6 separate regions of the Homo sapiens genome follow, and regions 1, 2, 3, 4 and 6 are each linked to region 5. Evidence: fine-mapped expression QTL. A gene starts in region 5. Each other region holds a variant in brackets. All regions are shown on one strand. Distances are between the middles of the regions.

Region 1 (5,074 bases), 64 kb after region 5:
AAGCTGGAAAAGGTGCATTGTGGTTCCTGAAGCTGCAGGAGTGAGGACCATGTCAAAGACATGGGGGCACCCAGGTGGAAGCACATGCCCACCTCCCATTTCCTAGGAGAAAACAAGTCAGATAGAACAGAGAAGGTGCACACAACCAGCTCTGGCACATTATAAAACTTTTGCCTCAGTTCTATTTTTTTCTGTGACCATGTAACGATCATAAAGATCTATCAGGATAGAAAGTCAAGTAAAACAAACTATGTGCCCTCTCAGCTGCCCAAATGTCTTAATCATGCTAGGCCTCTGCTTACACCGGCTCTCCTTCCAGCACCATCGATGCCACTCCAATCACATCAATCTCTTTACCGCCCCTCATCAAGCCATAGTTTCCCGTGTATTTTTCCCATTTGTGTGCACTGCTTCTTCTGCCTGGAATGCTTCTCCCTGCCTTTTCCACACCCCCAGGCCTCAACCAAAGTATTTTGTTTTTCTGAGAAATGTCTTCTGATGGTCCCTTTCACCTCTCCATTTCGGTCATTGTTTGCATGTAGCACGTACTGCTAGCTAGCCCCTAAAATCCATTCTCCCTGGCCGGGCGCCGTGGCTCACGCCTGTAATCCCAGCACTTTGGGAGGCCGAGGCAAGTGGATCATGAGGTCAAGAGATCGAGACCATCCTGGCCAACATGGTGAAACCCCGTCTCTACTAAAAGTACAAAAATTAGCAGGGCGTGGTGGCGGGCAACTGTAGTCCCAGCTACTCGGGAGGCTGAGGCAGGAGAATTGCTTGAACCCGGGACATGGAGGTTGCAGTGAGCCAAGATCACACCACTACACTCCAGCCTGGCAACAGAGCAAGACTCTGTCTCAGAAAATAAATAAATAAATAAATAAATAAATAAATAAATAAATAATCCATTCTCCCTGTTCTCCATAACAATGGGGAAGTAGCTAAATACATGGCCACCCTACCACAGACTGACTTTCCCACACCACCCCCACTCTCAGCTTGCAGCTCTGTGTGACCGTGTGGGGAACGTGAGCAGATGTGATTTGTGCCACTCCCACCTCACTGCATTGCTTTTCTGCTCTCTGTCCCCTTCCTGTGAGCTGGAACATGGATGTATTATGAAACCCAGTGCTCACCATTGCATCAGTGAGCTAGCACTAGGTAACAAGCCACCCTAAAACCCAGGCTTAAAACAAGAATCATTTCTTCTCTTGGAGAGTTGGCTAAGTGCCTTTGCTTCAAGCTATGGGTCTGGCAGGGCCTGACTCTTGCTGGGGTTGAGTTCTGATCTGTTCCACAAGTGTTCATTTTGAGACCCAAGCTGAAGGGGCAGCAGCTACCTAGGGCAACTTCTTACTGTGATGGCAGGGATGGCAGAGGGTGAGCCTAGCTGTGCAGGCACATGTCAAAATTCTGCTTGAGCCACACTTGCTCCCAACCTTGCCTTGGCCGAAGCAAGTCACATGGTGGAGGCCAAATTCAAGAGGAGGAGCACAAAACATCTTTTATAGAGGTTTAGGGGAGGAAATAACTATTTTTGAGCAATAATCTAATCTACCTCAGTCATGCAGAGAAGGACAAAGTCTTTGGGTGGAAGGGGAGCAATATGGATTCCTCAATGACTGTGTACGCCATCCTGCCTACCCACCCTCACTGTTAGGCAAGATAAATGAATTCATTGTTTCTTTAAGCCACAGAATTGTTGGGTCTGTTTGTTAAAGCTGCTTAGCCTTTTACCCTGAGGAATGTAACATGGTTTCCACTATAGCACATATTATTTGTTCTTTCTTTGGTTTGTTTTTCTTTTCCTAGTAGAAGTTTTTTGCTTGTTTTTTTTTTTTTTTTTTTTTTTTGTATGCTTGTTTGTTTTTGAGATAGGGTCTTGCTGTCGCCCAGGCTGAAGTGCAGTGGCACAATCAGGGCTCACTGCATCATCAACTTCCCCTGCTCAAGTGATCCTCCCACTTCAGCCTCCCAAGTAGCTGTGACTACAGGCATGTGCCACCACACCCAGCGATTTTTTTATTTTAGTAGAGATGAGGTCTTGCTATGTTGCCCATGCTGGTCTCAAACTCCTGAGCTCAGACAATCCTCCTGACTCAGTCTCCCAAAGTGCTGGGATTACAGGCATGAGCCACCATGCCTCGCCAGAAATTCCTTGAAATCAACAATTACGTCTTAATTAATTTTTGAATCCCTAGACCTACCATAGGATCTATTGTAGAGTGAGTGAATATTCAGTGAAAGTTTGCTAACTGATCAAATGAATTTCCTATTTTCTATTACTTTCACTTGGAAATAAATATGTGTTTAAAAAAGCGTTGCTTGCCGTAGTTATGAAAATAACAAAAGCACATTACAGGACCTAGATCATGGGTATCCAACATTTTGGCTTTCCTGGACCACATTGGAAGCAGAAGAATTGTCTTGGGCCACACATAAAATATGCTAACACTAACAATAGCTGACATGCATAAATAAATAAATACATAAATACATAAATAAAATAATTGGCTGGGTGCGGTAGCTCACACCTGTAATCCCAGCACTTTGGGAGGCCAAGGTGGGCAGATTACCTGAGTTCAGGAGTTTTAGACCAGTCTGGCCAACATGGTGAAACCCCATCTCCATTAAAAATACAAAAATTAGCTGGGCATGGTGGCGTGTGCCTACAGTCCCAGTACTTGGGAGGCTGAAACAGGAGAATTGCTTGAACCCCAGAGGCAGAGGTTGCAGTGAGCTGAGATTGTGCCACTGCACTCCAGCCTGGGTGACAGAGCAAGACTCTGTGCGTAATTTTCGTGATTTCCTCCACAGAAATAAGCAAAAAATCCTTGCCTTCAAAGGGTTGGACATGGTTGCCCTAGATGCTAACTTCCTCAAAATGTATAGATGATATGCAGATATGTGATTCCTCACAAGGAAAGCGGCTTCAG[G/A]AGGACATTCATTCATTTATCTAGTCATTGCATAAATACTTACTTAGTGCCTACCCTAAGCCTGGCACCAATCTAGGATGAGGACGGATATAGCAGTGAACAACCAAGACTCCTCAGGAAGCTCACATTTTAGGGGAGAAAGAGAGAGATGATAAATACATAAGTGAAAGATCAAGCAGACTGAATGGAGGTGTCAGAGAATTGGGGAAGGATGGAACTCTCAGTGATGATAACATTTGAACAAAGACCTAAGGAGGTGATGGAACCATATATTGCTATCTGAGAGAGAGCTTCTGGATAGATGGACTGTCAAGTATAGAAGCCCCGGGTGGGAGCCACCCTAGTTGTGTTCAAGAAACAGCGAGGATGCTACTACGGCTGGAGCACACAAGGGGGAGAGTGGTAGAAAATGTCCTTGGATATTGAATTTAGCAAAGAAGGCAGAAAAAGCCCAAATAGGTTTGACCAGCTAGGGGATTCTTAACACGTATTTAGTCAATGAACATTCAAACAACAGGTTTCTGTGGCTGTCCATGGTTGTGAAATCCATAGTGTTGAAGTAGTACTTGTCTTTGCCTAAGTGTCTTTGTGACAGTGTCTTTGTGCAGTGCTCAGGAATCAGGTGCCCATAGCTTAAACCCATTGATATCCTTGGGTTCAGCTGGGTGCAGTGGCTCAGGCCTGTAATCCCAGCACCTTGGGAGGCTGAGGCGGGTGGATCACCTGAGGTCAGGAGTTCGAGACCAGCCTGGCCAACATTGTGATACCCTGCCTCTACTAAAAATACAAAAATTAGCCGGGCATGGTGGTGGGCGCCTGTAGTCCCAGCTACTCAGGAGGCTGAGGCAGGAGAATTGCTTGAACCTGGGAGGTGGAGGTGGCAGTGAGCAGAGATCATGCCATTGCACTCCAGCCTGGGTGACAGAGCAAGACTCTGTCTCAAAAAAAAAAAAAAAAAAAAGATAGCCTCAAGTTCATTTGTCCACGCTCCTTCTCCAAAAGATAAGTTGGGAAAATTAATATCAATTCTCAATCAACATCAAGTTCAAGATGATCTTTGAGGTGTAGTTTTCAGCAGATTAATGACAGGCATTCCCGCCTCTTCCCCATCGCTAGGAGCTAGATGGCACTGAACAGGAGAGATGGGATATTAGCATATTCCCAGCTGCCTCTCTGCGAATCTGTATTGGCCACACATGTCTTCACTTAGTTTCAAGCCCACGTGCCCCTCTCTGCCCCACCCTTGCTCCCACCCCATTCTTTTTCCTTTTCAAAGAAAAGCCATAGCCATGTTATAATTGTTGCTTTTCTGTTGGAGAAGCGATATTATAGATTGGGTAGAAAATGTTCAAACAGAATTTAAAAAATTGAAAGCTTCTGAACATACTGTCTTAACACAGCCTCTTGAGACCTATTAACTGACTAGAAAGGAAGGAAATTAGCAATGGGAAGGTGGAGTTGAGTGCAGTTTCTCCTGCCTTTTTATATATTCTAGATGGAATTGCTGGGATAATAAAAGTTAAATATTCTAGGGTAATTGCCATTCCAGTCAATCCTATAAAAATATCATCAGAACTAGGGTTCTGACGTTGTTCCAGATATGGTAAATACCAGAACAGAGGAGGAATTTGGGAAAGGGTGAGCACGCCCTTTGCTGGATTTTGACCTGTTTGTTATCTGTTGTTATGGATTCTTCAGTGTTCAAATCAGTCTTTCGACTCAGAACTCTGAATCACAGGTCTCTAGATTCCCCAAAGAGAAACAGCCCCATTCCTTGTGATGTATTAGCCTAGTAAATTATAATTTTATTTGTTCTATTAAGCAGCTGAAGTTCAGCACATTTTTATTCATTTTGTACAATAGGCATTAAATGATTCTGAATGCCAGGCACCTAATCAGATTAAGAAAATCTTCATGTTGGCCAAAGGTTTATGCTTTTATACTGCAGTAAATTCCCCCATCATCTAATTCTTTCTACTCTACCCCAGCTCAGGGAAGACAGCAAAGCAACCCAAGGCTTTCAGAGACGCCTCCTCATACAAGGCCTTATCAGGTGCTCCCCTCTCCTCTCCAATCTTTCATATTGCTAGTGAGGGTAGGAGAATGGGCCCAGTTACACAAGATTAAAATGGAGACTT
Region 2 (5,074 bases), 110 kb before region 5:
GGTTCTTATATCTGTTGAAAAAGAGCCTAAATGCTCTCTAATTTGGGATAAAGAAAAAGGAGCATTAACCTTGATTGTGCCTTTAGCTCCAGCCACCTTTTTAAGAGGAAATTGCTGGGCAGGTGGGGGAGGGCTAGTCTCAGAACGAAACTGTGAGCCGGACCTGGTGTGAGGAGGGGAGGTGATAAAAAGGATAATAGGGTGGAGGAGCAGAGGCTGAGGAAGAATTGGGACCTAGCTCAGCCTGGCGAGGAGGGGAGAGGTCAGATGGGTCTGTAGAAAAGGAATATTAGAAAGACTCAGCGATGCTTGGGGTTGGGACTAAGGGGACAGGCGGGAGAGAAAGAAGGAAGATTTGGGACAAGTTGCATTGGGAACAGAAACTAGGGAGGGACCGACGTGTAAAAGAATGCCTGGACGTCAGGCACCTCAGACCGTTTGCCTATTTTACGGCAAGAATTATTTAGATCTCATAGGATGGAAAAATTGAAAGTGCTATTTTCTCGCTATTTGGAACCACTGTTGAGTTTGTATTGGGTCAAGTGGCATTGCAGAAGGAAATAAGGCATTTAGGTTTTAGGTCAGGTGTTTGTTGAAGAGGTTTTAGGTTTTTAAGAACACAGGCTAAGGGAGAAGAAGGGGGAATGGAGGGTGGAAGCTTGCCCATAGTGAAGGAGGCAAGCCCAGAGAAAAGAGAGAGTAGAGACACGGAGAGAAGGGGTGGGGGGTTCTTGACCCCCAGAAAAGCAGAGAAGGGGTAAAGACAGAGAGAAGGGGTCGGGGGGTTCCTGCCCCCTAGAAAAGCAGTACTTGCCACTAAGAGTGAAGGAGAAGGGGTTGAGGGGTTCTTGCCCCCTAGAAAAGTGGTACTTGCTGCTAAGGGTGAAGGAGAAGGGGTTGGGGGGTTCTTGCCCGCCAGAAAAGTGGAGAAGGGGTAGAGACACGGAGAGAAGGGGTTGGGGGGTTCTTGCCCCCCAGAAAAGCGGTACTTGCTGCTAAGGGTGACGGACCAAGGCAGGCGTCCCTGCATGGTCAGACACCTCTGAAACTTAGGTGAATAATCAGGCAGGCGTCTCCGCGTGATTAAACACCAAGAGAAGACTGTCTTCCCCAGTCCTTGACTGGCGCCGGAGTTTTGGGTCCACGGATAAAACGTGTCTCCTTCATCTCTACCAGAAAAGGAAAGGAACTGAAATTAAGAGAAGGGAGAGACTGAAGTGTGACGCCAAGATTTAAAGGAGAAAGAGGTTGAGGGATAGTGAGAGAGGTTGTAGAAGAGAGTAAAAAGAGGCCACTTACTGGATTTAAAATTGGTGAGATGTTCCTTGGGCTAGTTGGTCTGGGGACCAGAGGTCGTAGGTGGATCTTTCTCACAGAACAAAGAGCAGGAGGACAGGGGATTGATCTCCCAAGGGAGGTCCCCCGATCTGAGTCATGGCACCAAATTTCACTCACGTCCATGTGAAGAGACCACCAAACAGGCTTTGTGTGAGCAATAAAGCTTTTTAATCACCTGGGTGCAGGCGAGCTGAGTCCAAAAAGAGAGTCAGCCCAAAAATTTTTTTAAAAAGCAAAAACCTTTACTCATTTAGAGGGAAGACTTAGGTTTCCAAACAGTCTGTCTCTTGTATCTCCCTTCCTTTTTTTTTCAGTAGCTTATTTGCAAGACAAACAAAAGTCTTTCATTATCCTTTAATTATATTACGTGAAAATCTTGTTTAAGAGAGAGAAAGCCAAATTCCACCCTTACATTAGTCTTCTATTAATGTCAGCCTTAATTTTTAAAAAACGAAACCTTATAGGCTGGGGGTGGTGCCTCACACCTGTAATCTCAGCACTTTGGGAGACAAAGGCAGGGGATCATTTGAGACCAGGAGTTCGAGAACAGCCTGGCCAACATGGACAGACCTTGTCTCTATTAAAAATGCAAAAATTAACTGGGCCTGGTGGTACCCACCTGTAATCCGAGCTACTCAGGAATCTGAGACAGGAGAATCACTTGAACCCAGTAGGCGGAGGTTGCAGTGAGATTGTACCACAACACTCCAGCCTGGGTAGTGACAGAGTGAGACTCTGCCTCAAAAACAACAACAAAAAACCTTATAGGTAATTCTATCAAATCTTAACCTGTTCATCTGTCAGGTGAGATTCTTATAAACCATTTTTTTTTTTTTTTTTTTGAGACAGAGTCTCGATCTGTTGCCCAGGCTGGAGTGCGGTGGCACGATCTCAGCTCACTACAACCTCCGCCTCCCTGGTTCAAGCAGTTCTTCTACCTCAGCCTCTTGAGTAGCTGGGATTACAGGCACCCACCACCATACTTGGCTAATTTTTGTATTTTTAGTAGAGATGGGGTTTC[G/A]CTGTGTTGGCCAGGCTGGTCTCGAACTCCTGACATGGGGTTGGGCGATCCGACCACCTCAGCCTCCCAAAGTGCTGGGATTACAGGCATGAGCCACTGCGCCCATCCTCTTATAAGCCTTTTATAACTCTTTACACATTTTTGTTAAAGAGCAGATCAGTGCCTTTAGAAAACCTTGTTTTCCTTTTATTCCCATGTTCTATTTGTGGAAAAACCAAATAATACTCTTGAATTTAGTCAATACATTTACACACAAGATTTCTTTTACAAAGTTAATTTTTACAGACCTTCCACAACTTGTTCAAACCTTTAATTTAAAACAATCCTTTAACCCTCTAGGCAAAAATTTACATTCCCATGCCTTCTTATAATCTTTTACTAAAAACATATTTTACTTTTCTCTTACACCTTCCATGTAAATCTATTTTCGGTAGCCTCCGTTACATGTTATAATGGTAACTCTTAGATATTTTTAGTGTTAATGTAAAACCTGGTTAGTTATTTTAATTATGTACTAGGCACAGGTAAGGTGTCTTTCCAGCATAGTTAGGGGTACAGTTAAATCCATATGTCCCCAGGCCTTAAACTGTAAAGCAGGCAAGTCTTAACAACTTTCAAAAGCCAAAGAAGCAGTTTTTGACCTTAAAGTATTTAGTAATCCAAGTATTTGACCTGCATAATTTAGACCACATATTTACATTTTGAAGACATTTGTCATATAACCTTTAAGACTTTTTTTATTTCTCAAAGATTAAAGTCACATGAACTAAAAGGGATTACAGCTTCTATTTTTTCTTTAAAAATATTTGATCTAAGTGCTTATTTTTACTTAATCCAATTAATTGGAGCTCTTTTTTATATAAACATCACATACATATCACATGCATAACTACACAGACAGAAGAAGATCCACTAGTTATAAGATTTTTTTTTTTTTTTGAGACACAGTCTTGCTGTGTCGCTCAGGCTGGGGAGCAGTGATGTGATCTCAGCTCACTGCAAACTCCACCTCCTGAGTTCAAGTGATTCTCCTGCCTCAGCCTTCTGAGTAGCTGAGATTACAGGCACCCATCACCATGTCTAGCTAATTTTTCTATTTTTAGTAGAGATGGGGTTTCACCGTGTTGGCCACGGTGGTCTCAGACTCCTGGCCTCAGGTGATCCACCCACCTCAGCCTCTGAAAGTTCCAGGATTACAGGTGTCAGCCACCTGGCCCTGACAGATTTTTCACTTGCCAATCTCCTAATTGGGTTACTGGACTCGGGTTGAGCTCTTCAAAAAACCGGTAGGAAAACATGCCGTTTCTAGGGCCTAATAAGTAGGTACAGCTTGAAGACAAAAACAGATTTTGAGAGGGATCTATCTGACTTTAATTATTAGTTAGAGTTCCCTGAGGAAAACATTTTTCCCAAAATGGGTTCTGTGGTGCCTTCTCTGTTTTTCCCAAGGAATCCCAGGCTATCAGAAATTATCTTAGGCTTCTCATGTGTGCATTAAGAGTGAAAAAAAAATTAAGTCAACTGAGAAGACAAAAACCTTTTTCCAACCAAACAAGATCCAAGAAGAGAAAAAAAAGACATAAAGGTGTTTTAAATATACCTATAGCTAGGATATCCAATTTTTTTTTGTTTCAGACAGAGTCTCACTCTGTTGCTCAGGCTGGAATGCAGTGGCACAATCTCAGCTCACTGCAACTTCTACCTCTTGAGTTCAAGAGGTAGCCTCCCAAGTAGCTTACATTACAGGTGCATGCCACCATGCCCAGCTAATTTTTTGTGTTTGTAGTAGAGACAGGATTTTGACATGTTGGCCAGGCTGGTCTTAAACTCCTGAGCTCATGCAATCTACCCGCCTCGGCCTCCCAAAGTGCTAGGATTACAGACGTGAGCCACCACACGCAGCCTCTCCACTTTTAATATAAGCTGACTTTTAACCATGGTGCTCTTTTAAAAAATATTTTCAAATCCCTTATTACTTGAGTTGGTCAAGCCGCCAATATTTCTGGCTTTTGAACTTTACCAAAAGCAACCTCACAGGTGAAACTAACAAACCTCAACTAAGGTTATGACTTAACCACAAGTATTATGAATTATTTTCAAAGAGATGTTAAGCAGTTTTTTAAAAATCTAGAATCTCTAAATGTGGCTCACAGAAAGGAAGATTTATTTATTTATTTATTTTTTATTTTTTATTGATTTATTTATTTATTTTTTTATTTATTTATTTTTTTATTGATCATTCCTGGGTGTTTCTCGCAGAGGGGGATTTGGCAGGGTCATAGGACAATAGTGGAGGGAAGGTCAGCAGATAAACAAGTGAACAAAGGTCTCTGGTTTTCCTAGACAGAGGACCCTGTGGCCTTCCGCAGTGTTTGTGTCCCTGGGTACTTGAGATTAGGGAGTGGTGATGACTCTTAAGGAGCATGCTGCCTTCAAGCATCTGTTTAACAAAGCACATCTTGCACCGCCCTTAATCCATTTAACCCTGAGTGGACACAGCACTTGTTTCAGAGAGCACAGGGTTGGGGATAAGGTCACAGATCAACAGGATCCCAAGGCAGAAGAATTTTTCTTAATACAGAACAAAATGAAAAGTCTCCCTTGTCTACTTCTTTCTACACAGACACGGCAACCATCCGATTTCTCAATCTTTTCCCCACCTTTCCCCCCTTTCTATTCCACAAAACCGCCATTGTCATCCTGGCCCGTTCTCAA
Region 3 (5,074 bases), 200 kb after region 5:
AATCTGTATACTTTTAAAAGACAAACACATGGGTGTTGGTTTTCTGTTGCTGTGCAACAAGTTACCACAAACTTATTATCTCACAGTTCTGTAGGCCAGAAGTCCAGGCACAGAACAAGGTCGTCTGTTCACCTCTTATCTGGGGCTCAGAGTCCTTGCCTAAGCTCACTGGTTATTGGCAGAATTTATTTTCTTGTAAGACTGGGGTCCAGCTCTCAGCTCCCAGAGAGCTACCCACATCCATTGCCATGTGGCCTCTACCTTCAAATAAGCAATTCCATGCCAAATTCTTCTTTTGTTTCAAATCTCTGACTTTGTTTTTTGGAGCGAGCCAGAGAAAACTCTCTGCTTTTAGAGGGCTCATCAGATTAGGTCAAGTCCACCAGGATACTCTCCCTTTTACCATCGCATAGAATACAATCATAATATCATCATACTCACAGGTGCTTCCCACACTCAGGAAGAGCAGACTGCATACTGGGGTGGGTCATTGGGGGTCATCTGAGAATTCTGCCTGCCACAGCATGTAAACATTTATGGGAAAATAGTGTCTTCTCAACCATTGTTGTCAGCGGCCCCTAAGGGGCCATTGAGACATGAGGAAAACAAGGATACCTGACATCCTATAGTGGTCAAGGAAGAACCATCCTGGACAAATTATAGGGTCACAGGATGCTGAGAAACAGCAATTAAATGAAACAGAAAGAATCTTAATATTTAATAGAATGCCCAGAGCCCTTCTTTGAGTAACAAAAGATCCACTAAAGACTGGTGTAGCTCCTCTTTTATACTGGGAGATCCTTCCCCTACCCACAACCAGACCCAAGATAGAAATTAAATGGATAGGAACCAAATGCGAAGCCACATGATACAGGAAGCCCAGTAACTCCCTGAAACTGGACTAGATTCCTTGCTAAAGGAGGAACTGTTTCTTTTCTTAATGTAATTTCAGATTTAATTATTCACCAACCTCATCTCCAACTAGCATCTGTCCTTGGAAGATGCCTAAATTGAACAGGTCAACCAATGCAGGGATCAGACAGATTACTGTTCCCATTGGTGGCTCTACTAAGGGAAAACTTGACCTTGGGTTTTTCCTCTCGGATTTAGCACACTGTCATAAGGACTGGGGGATGGGGAGGCTGTCTTGAGGATGAGTTTTTCCTATGGAGGAAGAGAGATTTTGGTAAAGAGGGAGCAGAGAGCAGCAGCACAAGGTCCTTCCCACCTGGAGGCTTTTGAGCAATTGAGCAGGGTCTGGAAGGATGGGATGTTCCAGATAACACAGGGAGAAGACTAGCAATGAAGGGAAGGGGAGTAGCTTGAAAGGGCAGCAACAGTGGAGCAGGTGACTTCCTTAAAATGTGAAAGCTGGCCAGATGCAGTGGCTCACACCTGTAATCTCAGCACTTTGGGAGGCTGAGGCAGGAGGATCACTTGAGCCCAGAAGTTTGAGACCAGCCTGGGCAACACAAGGAGACCCTGTCTCTACAGAAAGTAAAAATAAATTACCCAGGCATGGTGGCACAGGCCTGTGGTCCTAGCTACTCCGGAGGCTGAGGTGGGAGAATCACTTGAGCCTGGGAGGTCAAAGCTACAGTGACCTGTGATCATGCCACTGCCCTCCAGCCTGGGTGACAAAGACAGACCTTGCCTCGAAAAAAATATTAAAAAATATAAAAGTTGGAAGCTGGAACTTGTGTGTAAGATGAGGACTCAGTGGAGAAGGAAAGAATGAAAACACCAGACTAAAGATACAGAGAAAAGGGACTCTGCAAGGTCCAAAAGAGGCGTGGTGGGAGGTGACAGAAGATACAGAGGAAAATATTAACTATGTAAAGAAGACGGACACTTCTACTCCTCAGATATGAGGAGGGGAGAGGAAATGGGTAAAAACAGAGATTTTCAGGTGGGTAGAAAGAAGGCCATCAGGTTAGGTGGCCTCACTCTTGGTAACTGGAAGACAAGGTCCGCTGACAGTGAAGGTTTGAAGATGTAAAGTAGATCTTACTCATTTAGAAAATACCCAATAGTTTTTCTTTTTTTTTTTTTTTTTTTTTTGAGACTGAGTCTTTCTCTGTCACCCAGGCTAGACTGCAATGGTGCGGTCTCAGCTCACTGCAATCTCCGCCTCCCGACTTCAAGCAATTCTCCTGCCACAGCCTCCCAAGTAGCTGGGACTACAGGCACCTACCACCATGCCCGGCTAATTTTTTTGTATTTTTAGTAGAGACGAGGTTTCACTATGTTGGCCAGGCTGGTCTCGAACTGCTGACCTCATGATCCGCCCACCTCGGCCTTCCAACGTGCTGGGATTACAGGCGTGAGCCACCGTGCCCGGCCCCAATATTTTTTCTAAATAAAGTTATTCCTGCTGTGGTGGTGGGCTGAGGTGGGGAAAATCTTTGGGAAATAAGATTAGAAATTAAAAGGAGCAAAAGCATCCATAACTAAGGAAAAGAACTAATGTTTGCTGAGTCATTAGCATTAAAACCATGGCATTCCTCCAAAAGGAACCAGAAATGGAACAGAAACGTTTCTTAAGGGCGCAGGTAAGAGAGGCACGAGGTAGCCAATGGTTCCAAGGTCCAGGATACTCACTCCTCTACCCCCAAGAACTTTCTGGGAGGAAACTGTGTCTTCTCAGTCGAAGTGGTGAGGGTAGCCCCCACCAGAACTTGACGGAAAGCTGGTTGTGTTTACCCAATT[T/G]TTCTTCCTGTGTGTCTGTAACCAGCCAGGTGTTTCTAGGAAGAGATCACAGTCTTTGGCCCATATTACCAGTACACTAGCTCAGCAAATTGCAGGGAGGGGCTGGTTGTCTTGCATTCACCTTTTGAAGGAAATGTTACAAGTTTTAGAGAAAAAACAGCCATTTAGTCTCTGGTAAATGCAAACATTTCCTAACATACCAAGGCTATCTGAAGAAAGTACAGAGCCTGGGGAAATTCTGCCTAATGAAATCAGTTTTTCCCAAGTGAGTAGCTATAGCAAAAGGAGGGCAAATATTTAGCCCCATTCTGGTCAATTATGATGTCCAGTGTCTTTTTTTTCTTTTCTTTTTTTTTTTTTCTTTCAGAGACAGGGTCTCGCCCTGTCGCCCAGGCTGGAGTGCAGTGGCATGATCATAATTCACTGCAACCTCAAACTCCTGGACTCAAGCAATCCTCCCGCCTCAACCTCCCAAGTAGCTAGGACTACAGGTGCCCACCACCATGTCTGGCTAATTATTAAATTTTTTACAGAGACAGGGTCTCACTATGTTGCCTAAGCTAGTCTCAAACTCCTGGCCTCAAGCAATCCTCTCACCTTGGCCTCACATAATGTTGGGGTTACAGGTGTGAGCCACTGTGCCCTGGCTAATTTCTGTTTTTGTAAAGAGAACATACAATCCTATCATCCCTAACACAACCCTTGGCCTTGAATCTTTAGTTCTGTCTGACAAACTAGGTCTTACTGCAGCTTTGAAATGGAGCTTTGGTTCTTATGCTTTTTTAACAGATCAAAGACACTTTCATTTAAATAATTTGGGTCAGCTGTGTATCATTCGGTGGGAATTGATGGGTAAAGATGGCATTTTTGCAAATGAATGGATAAACTTTTGATGCACTAAATTTATTTATTTTTTATTTTTCCACAGGTTATTGGGGGTACAGGTGGTATTTGGTTACTTAAGTTCTTTTTTTCTTTTTTCTTTTTTTTTTTTTTTTGAGACAGAGTCTCGCTCTGTTGCCCAGGCTGGAGTGCAGTGGCACGCTCTTGGCTCACTGCAATCTCTGCCTTCCGGGTTCAAATGATCCACCTGCCTCAGCCTCCCAAATAGCTGGAACCACAGGCAAGCACCACCCAGCCAATTATTGTATTTTTAGTAGAGACAGGGTTTTGCCATGTTGGCCAGGCTGATCTCGAACTCCTGACTTCAAGTGATCCACCCGCCTTGGCCTCCCAAAGTTCTGGGATTACAGGCATGAGCCACCGCGCACGGCCTGGATACACGAGTAAGTTCTTTAGTGGTGATTTGTGAGATTTTGGTGCACCCATCACCCAAGCAGTATACACTGCACCATATTGGTAGTCTTTTATCCCTCGCCCCCCTCCCATGCTTCCCAAGTCCCCAAAGTCCACTGTATCCTTCTTATGCCTTTGCGTCCTCATAGCTTAGCTCCCACATATCAGTGAGAACATAAGATGTTTGGTTTTCCATTCCTGAGTTACTTCACTTAGAATAATAGTCTCCAATCTCATCCAGATCACTGCAAATGCCATTAATTCATTCCTTTTTATGTTGATGCACTAAATTTAAAAAATGAGCTACATATGTGCAATGGTGTTATATATAACCAATAATGTTTGATATATTGTATGTATTATATAACCAATATTCTATATAACCAGTAATATTTGATATATTGTATGTATTTCAAATGAAAGTTGGTTATATCTGTCAAACCATGTAAAAAGGGTGATGTGCAACTTGAAGCAAGTGCCAAGATTTAGCAGACTACAACAAGATCAAACAGCAATTTAGAAAGAGAGAGATAGGAAGAAATATATTTTTGATGGATTCCATTTCTAAAGCCATCTAAGCAAAATCCAGGTCAACTTTTCACAAAACCGCACAGAAGGTAAGTCACATTGAGAGGCTGGCTGGCAGGCCTCTAACATACAGACATATATTATGGTTCAGGAATATTAAAGAAATGTACTACTCAGCAAGAATACCCATAACTCTCCTATAGATTAGAACATCAAACATATTTAAGGCCATTTGGACAGCTCAGAGCAAAATAAAAGAGAAATCCTGGTACCATCGGGCTTAGAGCTATCTTCCTTCTTCCAAACAAAAAGCATGGAAAAAGGAAAACTATTTCTCCTTTGTACTTTAGCCCTGGAGAAGACACTGATGTGGTTTGCTTCCCCCTTCCCTCCCCACATTGGGTTAGGTGGTTATGAAAAGCAGAGCTCACCTGGAAAGGTTGGCACTGCTTTGGCTCAGAGCCTGAGTGGAGGGCATGAGATGAGAGTGCCCACCAGAGCAGGAACAGGTGACCAGCCATTCCATTTGCTCAGGACTGGG
Region 4 (5,068 bases), 36 kb before region 5:
ACCTATCCAGAGCCCTTAACAAAACAAGTCTCTATCTGAGACAGGAGGGAAAACTTTATCTCTGTTAGCCAGCTCTCATTCCAAAGGGGTCTGATATTTAAAACTGTCTTTCTCCCAAATATTTTAACAGCATGTGAGAACTTTTGGCTGATGAATACAAGATACGCTCATTCATTCTCTTCATTGCTATGAAATGAGTTTTTCCACAACCTCCTGCAGAACCTCAACACATCACTAGGTGGCAACATCCCTACACCATATCGGTTTAGAAACCACGGTTAGGAGGAGCAGCAAAACACGCGGCATCCCAGTATGATTCAGAAGTAAAGTAAGTAAATATTTTCAGGGCAAATAAAAAACAGTCAAGTCTGATGCAATTAAAAGAAGTCCTCTCTACAAGAATAAATGTTTGTCCCCACTCTCCTCCCTCATGGAAACAGTACAGGCAAGCTGCCGGAGTGAACGCTGAGTGAGGGAAAGGAACGCACCATCGTTATCAAACTCGATCCGCGTGCATGGCCCCCGGGCGGTGATGTCGCAGCTGTACAGCCCTCCCGTTCTGTTGGCTCTCTGCAGTGGAAGCGCTTCTGCCCGCGGGGCCCCCACGAGCAACCTGTTGATGAAACAGAGACAATTTGGAGATTTGAATTTAATATACGTTTAACAGTTAAATCAGTCAGAACTAGGAGATAGTGGGATTATTCTTTGTCTAGGAGTCCACTAATTCTTCAACAGCTTAGGCAGTGAGTGAGAACAAATGTAGAGTCCTATGGCTGGTTCATGCAAAACGCACAAACACAACTAAACAGGGGAAGCCAAAGAGGGGATACCAAAACGAGGAAAATAGGCCTGTCTCTCATAGTATCAGCATTTCTTGCTGGGTATGATCTGGTGTTTAAAAGACACCCTCTTCAAAGAATACAACCTCTAAGCCCCTATGATGCCAGGGATATCATATGAAACTCAAGAGAAGAAACCAAATACTTGTGACAATGGAAGGAAAAAATGGCCACACTAAATGTAATAAGCAATAATATGTCAGTTTCTAACACTGTGCCTTCCTGAGGTAGTTTTCAAGGGTAATTCTGACTATATCTTAGATTTTCAGTTTATATACTAATTGAGAGAACCTAATGGTAAGTAAGATACAACTCGACTGAATTATTCACTTGCAGCCTTGGCCTCTTTCCAATTCTTTTTTTTTTTTCCCTCCAGTTTTATTAGGGTAGAATGGACAAATAAAAAGCAGATATATTTGAGGTGTACAAGTTGATGTTTGTTCTTCCAAGTCAGTTCTTACTTCCTTGCACTTTTGTCACATTACAAGAGTTCGTCCTCTCTCATCCTATCAGTCTCCCACAAAGGATTCAGGGACAACTGGTGTAGCTCCACTTATGTACTAGGCACTGTAATATTCCTTCTTCTCCCCAGCCGAGTGTTTTTATCTCCTATAAGGAGGCCCCCAGTCCAAATCCACAGTCCTTAAAATTTCACCATCTCACAGCTTGACAGGCTCTTTAGAGATCCAATGACCTTGTTGCTAGGTCTCTTTTGCTAACACCTTTACTCACCATCAGGTTTACAATCTTTGAGGCCTGGCTGACTCATGGAACAACTAGGACAAGAAACAAAGACAAAGAACACACACCTGACTGGACAGAGATAAACCAAGAGCTGAGAGTTTTGGAAACAAGGCTGGAGCTGAGGAAAAGGACTGGGAACACGAACCTGTACAAACAACAAATTCTTACAACAGAAAACAAGCCACTCCTGGCCATCAAGAAACCCACAAATCTCAGAAGCAAAAGCAAAACAAATGAAAATACAAACCAAATAGTCTCTATTACCTTCATGCCTGTTGGGTCCCAATAAAGGAATCATTCCAATAAAGGATTCAACATATTTTTTTTAAACCAATATCATGCAGCAGGTGCCACCGGAGGCAAGTGTACCTGGAAAGCAGGGAGGGGGGCCAGATGATGCCCAGACAGAGAAGGAGGGGTGGCTCATGGATAACACATAGCCCCAGCACTGTCCTTCCTCCCAGATCCCTGGACAGTCACAGTCAGCCCCCACCTCCAAACCCACCCTACATTTGAAGGAACAAAACAGCACACACCAAGGTACAGAACTGACACACAGACTTTTAAATTAGGAACTGGAGCAGTGTCCTTGGTGCCTGAACCTTCTTGACAGAGGACAGAGGCAAGGCCGGGGCCACAAGGGTCCCCACAGGTCTGCTCCACTCCTATTCCAGTGATGTCCCCGATCCCAGGAATGCCAACAAACAAGTACCTGGGAGGTGAACTGCCTAGACTATAAGGTGAATGTGTTAAATTACTGTACTTGGCAGATGTCAGAGGTGGAGTCATGTGGAGGGTGCTGGAAGGGATAAGTGGGGTGCCAGGATCAGAGGCCCAGAACCCCAGGACTTTCACACTGGAAGCCCCTGAGAGAGACCAGTCCTCCAGTTTTACAGATAAAGAAACAGAGGCCTTGAGGAGCTTAATTACTCATCCCCCAAGATCTCACAGCTAGTGGGTGGCCATGACAAAAATTATCTTGGTGCAATGTTGTCTCCATTTCTTTACAAAGCTGCTTAGGAAGTAAAACCCAGGATTTCAAGTTTACAACCTAGTTGAAAGGGCAAAACTTACACAAATAAAACATCACAACCAAAACTGTTCTGTATGCTGATAAAAGTTAAGATAATAGAGCCAAGTAGAGGGGAAGGAAGAAAAGCATTATTGCAGTTGGGTGGAGTGAAGGCTGGGTAAGAGATTTCCTGTAAAGGTAACCACCAGCAAAGAGAAGCCTAGAAAAAGCAGCACAGGA[G/A]TCCCATTGTCTTAACTGTGTGTCTTCCTAACCACTTCCTCTTCTCACCCACACCCAAGGTGGCTACTAAGTTACCTAAGGCAGGCACAGGGCTTATTTCCTGTTTATCCCATTCCCACATTCGTTCACCTATTCACTCAACAAACGCTGATTAAGAGCCTCCTAGGATGAATAAGGAATTGCCCCCACTCCTCAATCTCTGGCCTGGGGAAGCCTGATCCGTGAACAGGTCATGAGGTCATGAAACCACAGGGAGCTAGAGGCAATGAGAGGATGGTACAGAGTGCTGTGGGCACCAGCACCTGCTGGAGAGGAAGGGAGGATGTCACTAAGAGATGACAGCGGGACTGGAGGTGGCCAGGTAAGGAACACAGCATATGCAAAGGCTGCAAGGGAAGGAGCCAGAGAAAAGGGAGAAGAGGGACACAATGGGTGACAAGAAGGGGTCGAGGATCAGCAGCCTGGTCAGCAGCGCTAAAGGACGAAGGGTCAGAGACCCTCTGAACCCCAGGCTTCTGTAGCCTGCTGTGTCCTGCAGGGTACAGCTGCTTTTGGGTGTCCTGTGGTTTAAAAAGCTGTGGAGGTTGTCCCATTTACATGCCCAGTCCCTCAGAGTGGGTTGGCTTCCCTCAGCCTCTATCTGCCACTTGTTCTCCACTCTCTGTAACTAATACGTGTGGGACAAAGAATAGGCATTTAACTCGAATTTGTTGGCTGGTTACAGGGGCTGTGGTGACAAAATTTCACAAATGCCCACACCAAGCTCTTGCAGAAGAGGTCCTCGTGTCTTACATGCGGCGGCTACTGCAGATGACAGCAGACCACATGGCAGGATGGGGGCAGCAGGCTGGTTTGGGGAAAAAGGACAACAGATTCGAAAAGAGACCTGCAAACGACAAGAGAAATGTACCCACAGAGAATAACGTTAGCTGTTGCACCGCCTCTGGGCGAGCTCAGCCTGCACATGGTCCTGGCACTGTCCTTCCTCCACCTCAGGTGGTCCCACAGGGGATGGAGGAAGCAGGAGTGTTCCACCGCCCCTTGCAAATCCCCTGGGCAGCCGTGGGAGGAAGAGCTGACACCCAGCAGCAGAGGGCGCCCCTGCTCCAGTTGCGCCCGGTCTCCTGGGACCCACCGCGATAAGGTGGCAGAACCCATCACCGAAAGGTAAGGTAAAGCTACACCTTGATGAGAGAACACAGTAACCCCAACCACATTCAGCAACTGGAGGCGCCTTCATCCTCAAGGTAAAGCTGCCCTCCCTGGTTTGGGAAACAAGCAAAGGCTCTTAATTCGCCTGGAACCAGCCTTAAAGGCAGGAGATCACAGCCCATTAGCTGAGGCTGTGCCTAGCAGGAACAATAAATAAGGTAAATAGAGCTGTGTCCAAACAATGACAGCAGAGAACAACCTATCTACTTCCTAATCTAGGTCATTTAGGGTCTGGGTGCTGGTCTAAGCTGTTCAGGACATGGTTGGCTCCTGAGCTAGCAGAGTGGGTACAGGTCCAGGAGGGACAGTCTACACCTAGGAGGACCCTCAGCCCACACAAAATCCAATTTATGCTCAAATTCCAGCTTTCTTCCCTTTCCCTCCAAGGCCCTTAAATGCCAAAAACTGGGCCCAGGCCACCCAGATGGTTCAGTGTGAAAAGCAGGTACTCTCTGGGCACTACCAGGATGCTCACAGCAACTCCTAGGACCAGGGCAGCTGCAGCACTCATTACTGACCATCCCAGTACGTTTGAAGGAGGAAAGAGCTATGTGACAACTCGACCTTCAGAGCCACAGGGACCAAGGGATATGAGTTAGGGCCTTTGTAGGGAGGTGATAGAAATTAACAGAGCAGAGCCTGAGAGGTCTATTCCCATATGCGGTCAAGGCAAGAAAAACTAAACAAAGGGCAAGAATCTGGGTGTGAACTAAGATCATTTCAAAACCGGCCAGTGGACAATGACCTCCACTGAATTTTAAAGCTGCACCGAAATAAAAACTGCCTTGGGATTTCAGCATATCAGAAACCCACACTTAAAAGGCAAAACTCAAAACCACAAAATCATCTTTAACGATAAGAAATAAACACTGAGATACTAAAATGGAATGTAAAAATCTAACGATATAAGTATAACAGTAACTGGGAATATGATATAAATTCAGGTCTTTGGAGTCTAATCAGAGCTCTGGGCACAGAGACTCAGGACTCACTATCATGCTATGAACACAAGGTTATTTCA
Region 5 (5,074 bases):
GAACTACAAACATTTATGATAGGTCTTCTATGATCGTGCTTTTATCTGACCGTCCCATGCATCTGATATTTTACTTCTCCTTCCTCAAAGTCCTCTGTTCATTAAACTCACTTTTGTTATAAGTCTAATTAAGACCTATTAAAGTTAAGTTGCTTTGAACATGGGTTTCATAAATATGACTGAGTTTAAAATATCATTACCCAAAAACAACCACCTTTGGCTTTACTCTCAGGCAATCTTAGAATCACAGAATGTTTAAGACACCTTGTAAGGTACCTGACACACAGTAGGTACACAATTACTGCTTTTTAAATGATCATTAACAGCTACCATTTAGTCAGCAAGTACCCATGCCAGACAGGCATTAAGCACTTTGCATATTATCTCTTAATCCTCATAATAACCCCAGTAAGCAGTAATATCTCCATTTTACAGATAAAGAAATTAAAGCTCAAAGTAAATTAACAGCTGCTAATAAAAGGCCGAGAAGGAATCTCAGCTTAGGTCTCTCTCCCACCAGGTCCCTGAAAGACCCCCACTGAGTTTTTCCATAGAGTTTAGGAAGCTGGTCCAGAAGTTTTCTCAGTCTTACTGGCTCTGCCATTTACACCCACATTCTTTACTGTCAAAGGTTGACAACTGACCTGTGCTATGGCCTGTGTGTGCTGGTTCTCCTGGGAAGACCAATGCTATTCCTGAAGCTGGAATAAAGCTTTACAAAAGCATGGAGGTGGGCAGCACGTGACATAAACCACAGCCTCTTTAAAGTGTGGTCACTGCCTTTGGACTCTAGGAAACATACAGTCTCCTTATACGGGGCCTCTCCCCTCTGTCAGCTGCTAAGAAGAGCTTTCCTAGAAGGCATCAGACCCCATTGCAGGCTTATCCTTACCTCGGGAGGAGTTGCCTCAGCTCTAATACCAGAGAAGCCCAGCAGCAGTAACAAGTTTTAGCAAGCATGCTGCTAACCTTCACGACACAGATTCCTGGCAAAGTCACGTTTCGCAAATCTCCACTGCCAGGATATTTCTTGTCCCAGTACTTTCCCTTCACACTTTTTGCTTGAACAAGTATTTCAAGGAAGCCACCGGTTTCAGTGGGGCTCTGGTGCAGAGAGAGAATGCCCAGGAGAATGAATTCCCTCTGCTGGCCCACAATCATTTCTGCACTAACAAGCTCAAATTCTACACACCAAGTATTCCGAGACAATAAACGTCATCTATTAACTGAGTTAACAGGAACCTTTCATTTCAGATTTACAGCTTAACAACAATTATTTCTGAGAGAAAGCAGAGTATAAGCAGCTGGCCAGGCATATAGCCTCAGACCACCCTCCTAGAGCCTCCCCACCCCCAGCTAATTTCTGTGCTTCACCTAGCAGGTGTTATCAGAAAAAAAAAAAAACTGACTAAAATTCAGGGGCTGCAACATTCACGAATTCCAAAGTTGTTAACCGCTGAAATCAAGAGGTTTCCTCCAGTTCTAAAATCCCATTCGCCTCTCCTAAACACAAAATCTCTTCACTGTGGCTGCACTTTGCTTTCTCCGGTCTGTTGGTCCTGGAAGGTCCTTAGTTCAACTCAAGGCCTGGGTGGGGAGGGGAGACCTTTTGTTGCTACAGCCTATTTTTCAGTAGCACAGATGAAGAATGCAACCCCATAGCGATTAAGGCGACTAAGCGCCAAAATACCCTCTCCGGCTTAAATAGCCGATCATGTGGGAACCAAACACTGTTTAAGAAATAAAAGGAGAGGCCAGTAGTGCCGGTCTCCTCTTTCTCCTGGGAGGTTTACCGCTACGGTGGGGGGTTGTCCCTTACAAACCTTGTTTGCAAAGTCCAGGCTCAGATCGGACATTTTGCTTTAACCCCTTGGCTGTGCCCGCCCAACGCAGGAGCCGAGCGGGTCTCGGGTGCGGCCGAGTACTTTGGGGGCTGGGCACATCACTCAGACTTGTTTTCTCAGCTGATCTAGTCCAGCGAACAGGTGTTTGGTTAATTCCCGCCCCCACCCCCATCTTTTTTTTTTTTTTTTTCAAAGGCATGTAAAAGTATCTCCTAAGGAGCGCCCCCGCCTTGCTGAGAAAGTCATGCAGGACACATGGAAAGTGGCTTTCCAACTTGTGCGGGGCGCGCCAGTCTGCGGGGGAGACGGGGTGCACCGTGAGTTTGGGAAAGGCCTAGACCATCCTGGAACTACGCTCCCTGCAAACCCACAGCAGCGCTGCGGTGACCCTGAACGCCACCCCAGCCCCAAACACACACGTGAAGCTCAGCAAAGCGTGCCACCTGCCGGGGTCCCAGCAAACACGCCCGGAGGGAAGAACCGGCGGAAAGCACTTTGTTTAAAACAGAAAAAAAAGTAAACTCTCCCGGGGCCCAGCCTAGCCCTCGGGTTCTCCTCCTTCCCGAGCTGAATGGAGGGAGGCGCCGCGCGGGGCGGGTCAGGGCGGGGAGCCGAGCGCGCTGGGCGCTGGGTGCGCCTCGGCCGGCCCGGGCGCGACCCACGGGCCAACTACTCCCCGGGGCCGGCGGGAACAGGGCGCGCCCTCGCCTCAACTCGCGCGCAGGCCGGCGCCCCAGTGGGGGTGGGAAGGGTCTGGGAACTCACAGCCGCTTGTCCTCGGGCTGCAGTTGCCAGTGCATGGCCAGCGAGAAGCCGAAGAGGCTCCCGGGGTCTCCATATTTCCGGATCACGTTGTCCTCCCGAGTGTCCAAGTTGAAGGCTGCGCCGAGCCGGGACAGGAGCCCCGCCGACAGGTAGAGCAAGCACAGCTGCCCGGCGGCGGCCATGGGCGGACGCACGGGGAGGGGAGCGGGGACCTGCAGCGGCCGCCCTGCGCTCCGGGCTGGGTCCGAGGCTGCCGCGCTGCTGCTACCGCAGCCACCTTCGCCTCCTCTCGCCGCTGCGCCCGGCCCCACCCCCGGGACGGGTCGCGCTCTCCGTCCGGCCGCTCCCCCTCGCGGGCAGCTCGCGACCGCTGAATGAGCCCGTTGTTCTCTGGAGACTCGCAGGCGTTTTATCAAGTGACGAGGACGCCGGCCCCGCCCCTCCCCACCCTCTCGCCCCTCCTTGCGCGCCCGCGGCCCGGCGCACCGCCCGCACCTTACCCGCCGGCTCTGGCGTCTCCAGCTGCCCGGTACCTGCCCGGAAGCCACGACGTGGGAGCCCCGGAGGCGAGCTCGCGGCGAAGCAGCCCCACTGCGCCGCCCTCTGTGGACAGAATTGTGGTTGCCGAGTAGCACAGAGCGAGGGAGACTTTACTACCCGTTATAAAGAGAAGTGCAGGTGATGCACCGGGCCTCATGGCCTGAGCAGCCTGTTCTTGCAGATGTGGGCCCACGTGCAGATGCATACGTCATTCATTCATTTCTACAGGTGTTTATGGAGCGCTTAAGGCGTGCCCAACACTTGGGGACTACAGCTGTGTAGACTGTTCTGGGTCCTCAAACACCTAACAACCCTCAAAAATGATCACAGCGCACACCTTGATAGTGCTGTATAATGTACACAACCCAGCCATTACCTCAATTCATCCTAACAGTCCTATGAGGTAGGTGTTTCTTTTTGCAGATCAGAAAACCGAAGTTCCGCCTTGTCCCCAGATCACCTAGGATTTTGCCCAGGTGACCAGGAGAGCTTGTGGAAGAAGTCACGCAAGTCAAGGATGGGTTGTTTAAAGTGGCGCCAGGAGCTCAGGCGACGATGCCGTTCTTTCCTAGCCCCGGACTTTCAGAACTAGTTGTGGGGAGAACTGCTGGGCCAAGAGACAGCTCCGAGTTCTGTGTAGGTGGCATGAAGGCTCCTGCCTCCAGGACATGAGGCGGGGCTCCAGTGAGGTGTTGGCCCTAGGGGCAACCTTATCCTGCAGGGGTTCTTAACCCGAGGAGAGGTAATTAATTCAAGAGTACTGTGAACTTGGATGAGAAAAAATTTACGTCTTAATTTTCACCAACCTCTGACATTTAGCACGTTTTGCCATTATGAACGTAGACAACAAACTACAGTAGCAGTAGGATAAGTATTTATGACTTAGTAATCACTAGAAACCATAGGTTTTTACATCACATCACAGTTGTTGCAAGTATCTCAAATAACAGTAGTTATTAGACAATCAGCCAGATATTATATGTCAATAATGAAGCATATATATTGCTCTAGCACAAATTTTTAAAAACATTTTGTTAGCTACATTTCAATATTATTGGCTTTTTTTGTAACCTCTTGTGGTTTCTTTTATGTATTTAAAACCCTTATTCTGAGAAGAACCCCATGGTTTTCAGCAGCCTGCCAAAGGGGTCCCATGGCATGAAAAGGTTGGGACGTGCTGGCCTGAAGCCTTCTGGAATGCCTTGGGGAGCCCTCTTTGGAATCTGACATCCCTGCATTGGAAATACAAGCAGGGTGCAGCCCCAGGAAAGAGCAGGAGCTGTGTGTGCATAGGGGTAGGGGTGGCCTCTTCTTCACCTCAAGGAGTATTCAAGAGAACAGCATGTGCCACTCAGAAAAGCTGCGTGAACATCATCAAGGGTCCCCACAGGTGGTAGCAGCTGTCAGAGTAAGTCCGTCAGTATATTAGGGGTGTGTACCACTTCCTTTCCAATCAGTAACTCCAGTCAATTATAGTCCAAAGTGGGGTGCAGTGGTTTAAATTCAGTAGATGATTTTGGAGAGCACACAGTTTTAACAAATATATCTTGATAAGGTTGAGAAACTATTGGAGACAATCTAGTAAACTAAGAAGTACTTGCAACGTGATTTTTCATGCAAATAAGTTGCAAGTTAGCCTTTTCCCTTCGTGTAAAATATGTACTATTCCAGAGAGATGGGGTCCAGACTATTATAGGCATAGTATAATGAACCTCACTGCAGAGTGTACTCAGCCAGGAGCTGGTGATTTGGCTGTAATGGTTACTGAAATATTCTGAATTGGTTGATAAAAGCTGCTGCCCTTAGTTCCTCACAGGCAACCATCCCTGCCCTGCCCATTTTCCTAGGACTAAGCAACTTCCTCACAACCTGGCAAATGAAAGTTTAAGCCCTTAAGCCCTGATGCAGCAAGGGCTCCCTCTGCT
Region 6 (5,074 bases), 250 kb before region 5:
CGACTTGCTCATTTAAAATTGTAATTCCTGGCTGGGCGTGGTGGCTCACGCCTTTAATCCCCAGCACTTTGGAAGGCCGAGGTGGACAGATCACTGGAGGTCAGTGGTTCAAGACCAGCCTGGCCAACATGGTGAAATCCTGTCTCTACTAAAAATACAAAAATTAGCCGGGTGTGGTGGCGGGTGCCTGTAGTCCCATCTATCAGGAGTTTGAGGCTTGAGAATCGCTTGAACCTGGGAGATGGAAGTTGCAGTGAGCAGAGATCGTACCACTCCACTCCAATCTGGGCAACAGACTGAGACTCCATAAAAAATAATAATAACTAATAGATAAAATTGCAATTCCCCACCTTGCCCACTTACACTCCTCATGCCCATTACCCTGATTTTCCTTTTGTATACCATTAATCACCTCTGAACATGTATAATTTACTTATTTATTATGTGTATTGTCTATCTTCCGCAACTAGAACATCATGTCTACTTTACATACTGTTGTTTCCCCAGCACTTAGAATAATGTCTGGCCCCATAATAGGTGCTCAATGAATATTTGTTGAATGAATGAATGACAGAAGCTGAGAGAAGTACTCAATGCACGTAGGTGCTGATAACTCATTTTCTATCTCATGGTTAGGAAGGACTGCCTCTCAGCTGCATGCCAAGTCTCACAAGGGAATTAGAAAAGAGAACACTAATTAACTGGCACAAGTCTATCCCCACTGCAAAAACAAAATTCAAAATTAAATAATAAAGCTCCATAATGTGCATGTCCACTATTAGTGATCAGAATTATCAACTTCACTGGGACTGGGGCGGCATTATGTAATAATACGGATTTTGTCCCTGGTTCAGAGCATCGCTTAACTTCTTTTCACTCCTTTCCTCTGTGGGCACAACTTTCGTTCCCAATAAATTAAATACAGTGCCTAGTTTAAATGATTGCTACCAAACTGTTCCCAAAGAGAAAGAAAAACTCTCAGAGTTATTACAGTCCAAAACAAGAGAGATCACAATATCTAGCAGCACACAACAGCTCAGAAATAAGCCAGATGTACTAAGCCTGTTGCCAGGTGAAAGATGGAGTATAGTTTCTTGCCATAATTTATACTTCCCCTGAGTTGCTTCATAGGCTAAGGAATGAGCCAACAGTCACTAAAAAGAAAGAGAAGTGTCAAAGCCTGATGGCAATCCCAGGTTTTTCCTTTGTCTAATTGGCCCAGGCCCTCTGTAGCTGCTTTTGAGATCTGCCTTAAGCTCTCTGTTGCCTGTAAGCTGTCACAATACCCATTGTCTTATTCCCTTTGGACTAGAGAGCTTTGACCAGTTGCCAAATTCAGAATTTATTGTTGGAGTCAAGTTTTCAATGAGTGCACATTGTTTCCAGACAGGTTCCTGTAGACATAAAGTAAAAAAGAATAGGGCCAGCCACGATAGCACACATCTATAATCCCAGCACTTTGGGAGGCTGAGGGAGAGAAGTGCTTGAAGCCTGGAGTTCAAGACCAGCCTGGTCAACATAGCTAGACCCCGTCTCTACCACAAAAAATAAATAAATAAATAAATAAAAATTAGTGGGCATGGTGGTGCATGCCTGTACCCTCAGCTATTCCAAAGGCTGAGGTGGGAGGATCACTTGAGCCCAGGAGTTCAAGGCTGCAGTGAGCTATGATCACGCTACTGCACTCCAGCCTAGGCAGCAGAGTGAGACCTTGTCTCTATTTAAAAAAGAAAAGAAAAGAAAGAAAGAAAGGATAGTACAATTCATTTATTCAGTAAATATTGATTGAGCATCCACTATGCCCAAATACTGAACCTAGGGCATTCAATGATGAACAAAATAGAATGGCCCCTTCCGAGAGCTTGCAATTCAGGAAAAATTCTGGCAAGTAAACAATTACTAATATGCAATTGTGATAAAGACTGTGACAGAGCATGCAAGGAAGAAGCACCTGGCTGGAATTTGGTATATTAGGGGTTGAAC[T/C]TGGGGGTCAAGAAAAGTTTTACAATATAACTCTACTAAGAAAAATGGACCTGATATAAGTTTTCTCTTAAGCATTGAGGGGAAAATGGTTTCAAATTAAGAAGACTGGTTTTGGTATTTCTTGTGTCTCTGAAATAGGGTCTTGTGTCTGTTTTGACAGATAATTCTACTTAAAGAAATAAAAAATAAAAAACCTAAGTTTAGGTGTGCTCTAAATGAAGAGGCTAAAAAAAACCCAAAACCCTAAGGTTAGAGATTTAACCTGTGTTCGACCTGGTTTCCAATAGCTAGATCTGCTGAGTTATTACCTTCTTTTCTTTCTTGTTTCTGTTTTGCTTCCATTCTTTTTTTTTCTTTCTCTCCCCATTTTTTTCCATTATAACTTCAATTTAGAGGATACATGTTAATATACAATAAGCTACAATTTCACAATCTATTGGGCCTATTTTACTGCAAATACTCTGAACAAGTTGTTCACCCTATGATGGTCATCACTGATCCAAACCCTCCTCAAAACTATAGTACATTAGGCTATAAAAATGTTTTCCAAAAGAAAATGCTTCCAGTTCTTTCTTTCTTCAAGACTTCATGACTTCATCTTGTTGCTCAAATAACAATGAAAAATAAAATATTCTTTTGTTGTTGTTGTTGTTGTTAAGAGACAGAGTCTTGCCCTGTTGCCCAGGCTGGATGACAATAGTGGCATCATAGCTCACTGCAGCCTCAAACTCCTGGGCTTCAGTGATCCTCCTGCCACAGCTTCCCAAGCAGCTGGGAATACAAGTGCATGTCACCACACCTGACCAATCTTTAAAAAAAAATTTAGAGACAGGGTCTCACTATGTTGCCCAGGCTAGTCTTGAACTCCTAGCTTCAAGCAATCATCCCATCTCAGGCTCCCAAGTCATTGGATTTATAGGCATGAGTCATCATGCTTGGCTTAAAATTTTCTTTGAGAATAAAAATTTAGGGAAGTTTCAAACTAATGAGCATCAAGTCAGCAGTAAAAAACATACCATTATCCCTAAAGGCACACATTACAGGCTATATTTCTGAATGTTCAATTATTATTGCTTTAGGTACCATTGTCTTAAAGAAATCTCTGCGACAGAGTCAACATCATACACTCTAAGCTCTAGAGCTATATTTTGTAAAAACAAAAAAGGTTTCCCTGCTTCACTTTGCCTGCGGACCCCCTTCTGATGAACTCCACTCAGGGTAAGCCTGGTAAGCCATTACACCTGTACTTGGAAATATCATCTGATAAACCTGGTTTCTCAAAGGTTTTTCTGCCTTTGAAAATGCTACTGAATGTTGCTTTTATTCATTAACAAATAACTAATAAGCATCTACTTTGTGCCAAGGCCCTATTTCAGAGACAAAGAGGACCTAGTACTTATTGTCCCTCCAGTGGCACCTTTCTTAAATTGGGGAAAGAATCAAATACATAGTATAGGAAGTAAGTATTCCAGGAGTCCTTCTATATGGCCTCTTGCTATAAAAGGAACATTTTGGTTTATATCAAAAAGCATTAGGCAATGTTAATCTAATCTGTTCTAAAAAGTCAACTTTTAAGTTTATTTTAATATAATGCATAAGCATTATTTTAAATCAAATAGTACTAATAGACTGTTAAAAGCCAACAGTCTCCTGTCTTACTCTCTCCAACCACCAATCCCACTCCCTAGAGACTGCCACTTCCAACTGAATTACCTGTCTCATCTGGCATTTACCTCTACATTTAAAATAATATGCCTGTAATTTGGGTGACCATACATCTAGTTTGCCCATCAATTCCAATTTGTACCTGTTGTCTCAGAATAATTATAGCCAGTGGTCCCTTCACTCTCAGAAGTGTCTCTATGTGATTCATTACAGGATCGATAGACTTCCCTTTGTGGTTGAGCCCTCTGACTCCCTTTCTTTCTTTTTTTTGAGACGGAGTCTCCCTCTGTCACCCAGGCTGGAGTGCAGTGGTGCAATCTTGGCTCACTGCAACCTCCGTCTTCTGGGTTCAAGGGATTCTCCTGACTCAGCCTCCTGAGTAGCTGGGATTTACAGGCGCCCACCACCATGCCCGGCTAATTTTTGTATTTTTAGTACAGACAGGGTTTCACCATGTTGGCCAGGCTGGTCTCGAACTCCTGACCTAAGGTGATCCGCCTGCCTTGGCCTCCCAAAGTGCTGGGATTACAGGCGTGAGCTACCGCACCCGGCCTAATTTCCCTTTTATTCATCCTCCCAATGTAGCTATACAGTTTTGGATTAAATCCATAATCAATATTTACCTTATTTTGACCATCTAAGTATTATTCACTGCTAAGCCAAATAACTTCACTGTGATGTTTTCATTCTTGTATAAACTTTTGTTTTCTCTGAAGTTAACAACTGCCTCTTTTTAAGATGTTTAATTATTTGTGTACTTTTATTTTTCCCAAAATGCTTTAACAGAGCTGTGAAATGTCTAGGCAATAATTTTCCTAAGTGCTCAAACACTTCCAATTGTTATTTTCCCTTAACAGCCTTGTTCCTGGAGCCCTCTTCCTCTGGCTGCAATCCAGAGCAAGTTGCTGTCTGGACTTGTTGAAAAGCTGTTGTCCTGAGACTTCTCTTCAAATTCTAAGGAAAAATTTACTTTTTCTCAGGATTCTAAACCCAATCAAATAATCAAGTGTAAAGGCAAAATAGATACAAAATGTACCTTGCAAATACTCTAGGAAGCTACTGGAAGAAAGGCTTCAGCAAATAAAGGAAGTGTATGAAGAAAGAAAGAAGCATGGCACATTGCTACCTTAACTAATAAAAATCTCTGAACTTTCCGGTCCCATCTGAGGAAGCAAAAATGCTACTTGCTGCAAAAACGACACCATTTATCACACTGCAACAAAAGCAATGTATAGGCATGCCTTGGGGATATGTGAGTTTGATTCCAGACTACTTCAATAAAATGAATACTGCAATGAAGTCACACAATTTTTTTTGTTTCGCAGTGCATATAAAAGTTATATTTACTTTATACTGTAGTCTGTTAAGTATGCAGAAGCATTATGTATTTAAAAAACACTATACGTATCTTAATTTTAAAATATTT

The links.
Region 1: its variant is fine-mapped to the expression of ITGA6 in whole blood (TOPMed, PIP above 0.99).
Region 2: its variant is fine-mapped to the expression of ITGA6 in whole blood (INTERVAL, PIP 0.98).
Region 3: its variant is fine-mapped to the expression of ITGA6 in whole blood (TOPMed, PIP above 0.99). The same link has a PIP of 0.9 or more in T cells and blood mononuclear cells.
Region 4: its variant is fine-mapped to the expression of ITGA6 in whole blood (TOPMed, PIP above 0.99).
Region 6: its variant is fine-mapped to the expression of ITGA6 in whole blood (INTERVAL, PIP above 0.99).

The regions. Positions count from the first base shown.
Region 1 is chr2:172,361,068-172,366,141 of GRCh38, reverse strand. The region is part of intron 4 of LOC107985960 (a long non-coding RNA gene); the gene reads right to left. Among named protein-coding and RNA genes, the nearest start is that of ITGA6, 64 kb to the left of the region's middle. The variant G/A (reference allele first, on the strand shown) is at 2,937.
Region 2 is chr2:172,538,575-172,543,648 of GRCh38, reverse strand. All of the region lies in intron 1 of PDK1-AS1 (PDK1 and ITGA6 antisense RNA 1), which reads left to right. Among named protein-coding and RNA genes, the nearest start is that of PDK1, 15 kb to the left of the region's middle. The variant G/A (reference allele first, on the strand shown) is at 2,360.
Region 3 is chr2:172,221,380-172,226,453 of GRCh38, reverse strand. No RefSeq gene overlaps it. Among named protein-coding and RNA genes, the nearest start is that of DLX2-DT, 120 kb to the right of the region's middle. The variant T/G (reference allele first, on the strand shown) is at 2,710.
Region 4 is chr2:172,461,084-172,466,151 of GRCh38, reverse strand. It overlaps ITGA6 (integrin subunit alpha 6), which reads right to left. Exons shown (of 26, transcript NM_000210.4): 2 at 489-613. ITGA6-AS1 (ITGA6 and PDK1 antisense RNA 1) reads left to right here and starts at 130. Exons shown (of 2, transcript NR_157573.1): 1 at 130-328; 2 at 1,578-1,890. PDK1-AS1 (PDK1 and ITGA6 antisense RNA 1) reads left to right here. Exons shown (of 4, transcript NR_199657.1): 4 at 1,578-1,886. The variant G/A (reference allele first, on the strand shown) is at 2,836.
Region 5 is chr2:172,425,506-172,430,579 of GRCh38, reverse strand. ITGA6 (integrin subunit alpha 6) reads right to left here and starts at 2,994. Exons shown (of 26, transcript NM_000210.4): 1 at 2,610-2,994. The coding sequence starts at 2,791. RefSeq lists enhancers at 1-257, 1,682-2,182 and a silencer at 2,967-3,046.
Region 6 is chr2:172,677,014-172,682,087 of GRCh38, reverse strand. It overlaps a transcript of PDK1 not described here. Among named protein-coding and RNA genes, the nearest start is that of RAPGEF4, 56 kb to the left of the region's middle. The variant T/C (reference allele first, on the strand shown) is at 1,984.